2 linked regions of the Homo sapiens genome follow. The protein of the gene in region 1 interacts with the protein of each later gene in a pairwise test. Each region holds a gene or a part of one and is shown in the gene's direction. Other genes may lie near its edges. The genes, in order: ADGRF5 and NFYC.

Region 1 (4,356 bases):
TAAACTCAGTACTATTATTATCCCACTTTCACACACAATAAAACTGAATCTCAGGGCCAGGAGCAGTGGCTCACGCCTGTAATCCCAGCACTTTGGGAGGCCGAGGCTGGGGATTACCTGAGGTCAGGAGTTTGAGACCAGCCTGGCCAACATGGAGAGACCCTGTCTCTATTAAAAATACAAAAATTAGCCAGATGTGCTGGTAGGCACCTACAGTCCCAGCTACTGGGAAAGCTGAGGCAGGAGAATCGCTTGAACCCAGGAGGCAGAGGTTGCAGTGAGCCAAGATCGCGCCACTGGACTCTAGCCTGGGAGACAGAGCGAGACTCCGTCTAAAAACAAAACAACACTGAATCTCAATAGGGTCAAGTAATGTGTACCCGGCCACATATAATTGGTGGGACTAAAGCATCAGTTCCTACAGTCTGACTCCAGAGTCCTTTCTTTGACACTATGAGGAATTCCCTGAAGATACTCTTGGGACTACCTGCATGGGACTCACCCGAAGCACTTATTTCCAATGCCGATTCCAAGCCAGGCCTCATTCATCAAACTTTCTGTGGGCAGAGCTCCAGAGTAGAGAGTCAAACAGCATTCCCCATCCGTGTTCTGACCTTGGGAAGGGTTCTCCTTGGGCCTCAGTTTCCTCTTTTGTAAAATGAGGATCAGTGAGGTCACTTCCAGTTCAAAAATGAGCTGACTATAATTCATCTTTAAACCCAGCAACCTGGATGCAGCCTGCCAACCAGGCCTTTACCATATATCTCCTTATCTTTAAATATCCATGCTATTGAGCGGTATTTTAAGTACCACTAAATTTATAGTTTGATACACAAATACTCACAGAGTTTCCCTGGAAACCTAGGAGAACTGGACGTCCCTCCAATATGGCATTTTTGAGGTACAGCCCTCCCGCGGGGGAGGACTAAGCAACTTCTCTAGGTCTCTTCTCTTCTGCGGATTCTTTTTTTCTCTGCTTTCTTGGCACTGCTAAAGACAAAGAATTCATCGATAGTCTTAATTTTCCTTCCTCTCTGAAGTTACAATCTAATTTAGTGGTCATCTTTTAAAAGTTGAAACCAGACATCCTGTACTTCTCATTAGCTCTAACCTATGTTTGGTTTGCTCTGGTTTTGCTTTTCTGATTTTTTTCTTTGGAGAAAGAAAAGTGAGAACTAGGGGCATTGGCCAAACAAGTCTGTCCACTTGGTGGAGAGGTTTCCAGATAAGAAGGATCTGAAGGACTTCCCATGGGCGTGAGGGAAATCGCACACGCCATCCGGGGAAGAGGACCAGGAAATCACTTTTTGTTTTTAAAACAGCAGCGCGGCTCTCAGGGATGACTCTGTGAGACTGGGAGGATCATAGCTGGGGGAGGCTGAGCGTGGGAGCGGTGCTGCCAGTCCTGCCTGAAAACGCGAAATGAGTCTTGCTTGGTTCTCCCTCCACTGGGCGTGAGAGCCCCTGCCCAGGAGGCCCAGGACAAATGGCCCCATAGTGGAAACTGGGAAGCTTTTAGGCATCTGATCAGAGCGGGAGCCAGCCGGGGGACCACAGTGCTGGACAGGTAACAGACATTTCTCCTACTGCGGTCTGTCATTCTGTCTCCCTTTGTAGCAAGACCTCAGGGGCTCCTAAGTCACTTCTCTTAAGACATCTTCCACTTACGATCCTCTTTGCCTGCTTTTCTTTTGCGTAGGTGTGATATGTATGTTGGGAAAGTTAAGTATGTCCAGTCAAGAGCATTGTGCATACTGTTGGTCCAGTTAATGAGACTATATTAAAGGAGATGGCGTATCAAGCAACTAGCTGGGATCCTTTAGGATTTTCTTAATAACAGACTTTTTTTTTTTCAAACAAGTTCTCTCGTCCTTAAACCAGAAAATACTATAAAAACCAGTGCATTCATGAGCTACTGAGCTGCTGCTCTTGCCAAGAGCATTTCAGGGCCAGTCGGCCATTGCTGTGGTCAGGCTGAGGAAGGAAGAGGCTGCATCCCAGTAGCAGGAGGAGGGAGCCCTGGCTATTCGCTCAGCTTCGGGAGAGTCCTTCCAAAGGACAAGGGATGACCTTAGAAATGTAAAATGTAGGCTGCAGCCTCCCACACAGGACTGAGGGGAAAGGAGTTTGTAGTCAGCATTAGGAAGGAGGTCAGTAAAAGTGCTGGGGCTTCAGGGCCAGGCCGACTTGTTTTGAAAGGAGCAACTCTATGATGTGCGGTTTGCTTAAACCATGTTTTCTCATATTTCAGAAAGCCAGGTCATGCCACTTCACTACAGCATTTTTTCTTTCATAAAGGGCTAACGTAGTTGGTTTTTCAATGTAGGTTATTTTTGAATTACACAGATAATACTTGACTATATTCTTATCGTAAAAGAATATCTCTAAATAGATTTTATTTTTATTTTTATTTTTTTGAGATGGAGTCTTGCTCTGTCGCCCAGGTTGGAGTGCAGTGGCACGATCTTGGTTCACTACAACCTCTGCCTCCCGGGTTCAAACGATCCTCCTGCCTCAACCTCCCAAGCAGCTGGGATTACAGGCACCCGCCACCACACCCTGCTAATTTTTGTATTTTTAGTAGAGATGGGGTTTCACCATGTTAGCCAGGTTGGTCTCGAACTCCTGACCTCAGGTGATCCACCTGCCTCGGCCTCCCAAAATGCTGGAATTACGGGTGTCAGCCATCGCAGCCAGCTTTCTGTTAACAGTTTTCAATTGCACCCCCAATATACACTCTCTTCCCCCCCCCCAAATATTATTCTATCAATTGTTTTCTGTGTTACCAGTTAAAGGCTTTATTTTCTGTTCTTCTGAGCTCTATAGGACAAGCCGGGGCACAGGAGTACAATAAATTCTCATTGTCAAGTTCTTGTGATTTATCCTAAACTCCTTCCTCTCAGTGAAAGATAAAATGATACATGGGAAACATGAATAGCTCTTTTAACTCTTAGAAAAGTATAAAGAGTTTTACTCATTTTTACCATTACTATTTTGTGTTGGTTTTGGCTTTGACAATTAATAATATTAGTAACAACCTCCTAAGGATTAAATTCTAGATTTGCCAATTAGTGGTTTGGGCTTTTCCCTTGAAGGGCATCAGAAGTTTCTTATTCTAGAAATGAAAGGGGAGAAGATAAAATAACAGGAAATTAACTAGATAGATAATAGCTAGATTGATAGATAAAGTGGCCCAGAGAACGTAGAGTGAAGACAGGAGAGATTGCCCTTTTATTCAGTGGATAATAAATGCATTTAACAGATCGGTTCATTTTCCATCTCTTTTAGTCTTCTGTAAAAAGGTGGCCTTCCCCTCCCCACCAACAATGTTAAGAGACAAGCAAATAAGGAAAACATCACTATGAACAAGTTAATACAGCTTATGGAGAGAGCCTTTGGGAAAAAGGTATAAATAAGCAGTATCAAACCCAAGAATAATACGAACACTTTCAATAGCTATTTCATATTTTCTTGTTCTTTACAGGGTTTCTCCACCCCAAACTATAGAGCCACTAGGCCTTGCTGATTTTGGACGTTCTGTAAAATTTGCCTGCCTTTGTCCCTTCTCCAGATCTCTGGCTACTCCGATGAATCATTTCTTCCAAGTGCACAGTGTTAGCCACATGAGAGACCTCCACTGAGGCCCTGTAGACTAACACTGCCTCACTTACTGAGTGTGGGTTTATTGACTATGATATAGTAACCTCACTTACTGCGCTATGGGGTACTTGGGGGCATTTTGGAGCAGTTAAAAATATCCCATGGGGTCCCACCTCCTCACGTTAATGAGGCTAATCTGTCTCCTCCTAAATATTATGCATTCAATCTCTTGTATTTATATGCAACTTTTTAGTTATCAAAAGACTTTTATGCCTCTTCTTTCACCATGTCACAGGTAAAGCAGGTAACTTATTCTCATCTAATGGAATACAAAAACAGGAAGTTCAGAGGTTAATTTATTTGCCTCAATGGCACAATGAATTTTTTTGGAGGACTGAGATGAGAAGAAACTCAGATTACTGTCTTTGCAGCCCCATTTTTTTTATGTCAGTACTATGAGGATAAAAGTCATGTGGAATAGAGAATTGATGCGATTGGCTGGATTCTGTCAGCTTTGTAGCCACATGGTAGATGTTTGCTGGGAATCTAAAGTTAGACTAAACTATTGCTTTGTCCAGATATTAGCAAGTTCTATCACCTGCTGTCCATCGGCGTCACCCTAGGAACTTAACAAAGAGAAAACAATGTCTAGACACTTTGCCAGAGAAACTGAATCACTATCTCTGAGGATGGGGCCAGGGCATGGTTAGATTTTTTGTTTGTTTGTTGTTTTTAATCTCCAAAGTGATTCTATAA
Region 2 (3,817 bases), on another chromosome or scaffold:
CCCTCATCCTTTTTCTATACTCCTCTACCCCCACTTGAAACAAATTTTGGAGACAAGGCCATTGCTACTGTGATGAGAAAGGAGCTCTCCTCCCCAGTTTCTGTTGTCAGGTTAGTGCAAATGTCAGAAATGGCCACTATCAGTTGTAAAGAACTGTGGATCACTGTGGTCAAGTGCCCCGGCGTTGCTGTTAGTTTGGTCACTGAATGGAAGAAAGAACTGGCAGTTTAGAGGAATACCCCTGAGACAGAAATCTCATTTTAATCTGCATATTGCAGACTGGTAAACTTACTTGGAAAAAAAAAGAAGGCGCTCATAATGTCCCTCTATGTTGTGCTGACGAAAAAAAAAAAAAAACAGATATTGCTTGGGGCTGTGTTTCATGAGAGCACTGTTAGAGGCCATCCTAAGCTTTTTCTAAAGCCCATTAATTCTTTGAAGACCTGCATATGTTAAGTAAAGAAGAATTTTGCTCTGGAGCTTGTATTTTCTTCATTTCATCTGTACCTTCTCTCCCGACATACGCTTCCTGAAGAGAGGGACCAAGCCAGAGTGTTTCCTACTGCCTGTCATGCTTTGCCACACTGTTGATTGTCCCCACCATTTATGCATCTCTTGTTGTTCATTTCAGAAAGACTTCCGAGTGCAGGAACTCCCACTGGCTCGTATTAAGAAGATTATGAAACTGGATGAAGATGTGAAGGTGAATTCACATTCATTTTTATTATTTCTTATTGAAGCTAAGTGATGGGTAGGTTATTGCTCATTTCTCTAGAGCTCAAAGTTTAATTAAACAAGAACACACAAAAATTACTGTCTGTTGCTTTGTTATTTGGTTCCTGTGCAAAATTGTTAAGTGAGCCAAAATTGAGCAGTTTTGGTTACTATATGGATCATCCTGAAAATTTTTTAGATGTTGAAAAAATAGTTGATGTTGGGTTTTTTTTTTTTTTTTGAGAGTTTTACTCTGTTATCCAGGCCGCAGTGCAGTGGTGCGAGCTTAGCTCACTGCAACCTCTGCCTCCCAGGTTCAGGCAATTCCCATGCCTCAGACTCCCGAGTAGCTAGGATTACAGGCGCCCGCCACCACACCTAGCTAATTTTTGTATTTTTTGTAGAGACAGGGTTTCACCATGTTGGCCAGGCTGGTCTTGAACTCCCGACCTCAGGTGATATGCCTGCCTCTGCCTCCCAAAGTGCTGGGATTACAGGTGTGAGCCACCGCATCTGGCCTTTTCTTTCTTTTTGAGACAGGGTCTCACTCTGTCACCCAGGCTGGAGGGCAATGGCATAATCACGGCTCACTGTAGCCTTCACCTCCCAGGCTTAAGTGATCTTCCCACCTCAGCCTCCCAAGTAGCTGGGACTACAGGCACGTGCCATCATGTCTGGCTTAATTTTTAATGTTTTTTTGGAGTGGGGGACAGGATCTCACCATGTTGTCCAGGCTAGTCACGAACTCCTGGGCTCAAGCAGTCCTCCAGCCTCAGCCTCCCAAAGTGCTAGGATTAGGCATGAGCCACCATGCCCAGCTGGTATCTCACAGTTCTGTTCACAGTGTAGTATATACATGTATCATCAAATCAACAGGACAGTGCCATCATCTTAGCGTCTTACATAGTTTGTTGATCTGAACTCTTAAGAAATTTTTGATAATGATATTCTACCTGTTCTAACCTTTTGATCTATGAGTTTCTTTTACATGAATAATACTTGTGAGAGGGTTTGCGTGGGCTTGGCCATTTCTGTATTCCTAGGAGTCCATCTCCATTACAGATCTCAGAGAAAGAGGAACTCTGTCTCTTTACCACTCAAAATTAATAGTCTTTTGTATTTTCACAGAAAGCTAACAATTGATAGTAATTTTCCCTTTTATTAGCTCCTTTCTTCCTCACAGTAGCCCTGTGAGATTTGATATAATAAGAATTATCAGTTCCATTTTACAGACAATGGAAATAGACACAAAGAGGTTAAGTGACTCACCCAGAGTGATAGGACCAAGATCCCATTTCCCATCTGCTGCTTCTTTAACTCCAGAGCTCTTTCTGTGGCTGTATCCTGCACAGACTACCTCACCAAAGGTTTAGAACCTTGTTTGACCAAGAGCTTCAACTTTGAAATCAGACACATCAAGAAAGTTTATATGGCTTGAGCATTTCCTATATGCCAAGCCCTGGGCTGGGTACATATATTATCTCATTTGATTGCCACAATAAAACTGAAAGGTTATCCTCTTTTTCAGTACATGAAAAAGCCCAAAAGGATGGGAAGCCTGCAATTTTATCCAAATCCATTGGCTTTCAAGCTCATTCTCCTTCCTCATATTGTTTCTCCTTGGATTAGAACCTAAACCCTGCCACTTACTGGCTCTATGGCTGTGGGCAAGTCACTTCATCTCTCTTGACCCCTAGTTTCTTTGAAAGGCTATTATAAGAGTAAGAAAACACCTTGCACAAGGTTTGGCGCATGGTATGTGCTAGATAAGTATTCTTTCTCCCTGTTACCTGCTTTGTTCCCACTCATGGATTTATTTTACCTTGGAATCTCTTGAGTATACCACCTCATTTTTTGACCCTTGCCCCATAGTCCCATGCCAGGCAATGAGGCAAGAGACAGACTGGTTTGCATGACTTGCTGGTGATTGACAGGGAGGGCCTGTGTCTGTTACAGATGATCAGTGCAGAAGCGCCTGTACTCTTTGCCAAGGCAGCCCAGATTTTTATCACAGAGTTGACTCTTCGAGCCTGGATTCACACAGAAGATAACAAGCGCCGGACTCTACAGGTATTATTGCAGACTTAGATTAGGAAAACTGGGGTAAGCAGCAGCCTTTGCCTGTTTTCCTGCGTGGTGTTGGAGAAAGATTGTTCTCCTTTAGGACCAAAGATTGTTCTCCTTTAGGACCAAAGATTGTTCTCCTTTAGGCCTCTATCAAGCTGACGTGTCATTGGCATCACCACTGTTGGGAGGCAGACATACCTTCTAGCCATGGTGATTGTGTTTCTCCACCAAAAATCTTAATCAATTCTCTCCTGGTTTTCACAGCTTAGTGACTGAACTCTTTTCCCTTGGTGAGCCCTCACTATAAACAGAGGCTCAAGTGATAAGAGTATTTACCTGTTTCCAAACGTAATCAACTTCTGGTTGGGAGCCTTGAGAGATTCCAGGAAGTATCATCAGTCTCACTAGCTTCATTAGGCTTTTTGTTCCTTGTCAGCCTTCCTGGGAGTCCTTTTCTTTTTCTTCTTCTTTTTTTTTTAATTTTAATTTTTAACCTAGCGAATTCACATTCATACTGTATGCAGAGCCCTTGGTCATTGACTCTAGAAACCCTCACCCTATAGCCAAGCCCTGGCTCTTAGAGGAAAGATTTCCCAGATACAAGAAGAAGAGTGTAACAAGTATAAAACAGTGGTGGCAGTATTTTAACAATGAAGCCAAGAAAGTAAATTATTTTCTCTTCTTGTTTCCCTTTACCTACAAAGTAGAAAATGCATGTGTTTATTCATTTATTCTAAAAATACTTACTGAACACCCACAATGTGCCGGGCACTTTTCTAGGCTCTGGGGATTAACGATACACACAACAGACAAAAATCCTTATCTGTGGGAAGCCTGCATTCTAGTACAGCTTGTCAATGCGTCATAAAGTTAGGATTTGTGTACATTACTATATGAAAGTTTTAAAGCAAAAAAAGCAAAAAATACTGAGCTCCAATAAATGATATGCATGTTGAAGTCACAAAATTTATGTTGCCTTGAAGTTAGTCTGTGGATCCAGAGAGATCCAGTTAAAGCTCCCTTCAAGATCAATTCA

Evidence for each region.
Region 2: the proteins of ADGRF5 (region 1) and NFYC interact in binary tests that used the Homo sapiens proteins (3 or more experiments, as listed by UniProt).

What each region holds. Positions count from the first base shown.
Region 1 is NC_000006.12:46,918,924-46,923,279, reverse strand, and holds the start of ADGRF5 (adhesion G protein-coupled receptor F5 precursor), read left to right. Parts: upstream 1-1,341; 5' UTR 1,342-1,567; intron 1,568-4,356. UniProt on the Homo sapiens protein: Adhesion G protein-coupled receptor. In alveolar type II (ATII or AT2) cells, required for normal lung surfactant homeostasis.
Region 2 is NC_000001.11:40,746,903-40,750,719, forward strand, and holds part of NFYC (nuclear transcription factor Y subunit gamma), read left to right. Parts: intron 1-631; coding exon 632-703; intron 704-2,670; coding exon 2,671-2,784; intron 2,785-3,817. UniProt on the Homo sapiens protein: Component of the sequence-specific heterotrimeric transcription factor (NF-Y) which specifically recognizes a 5'-CCAAT-3' box motif found in the promoters of its target genes.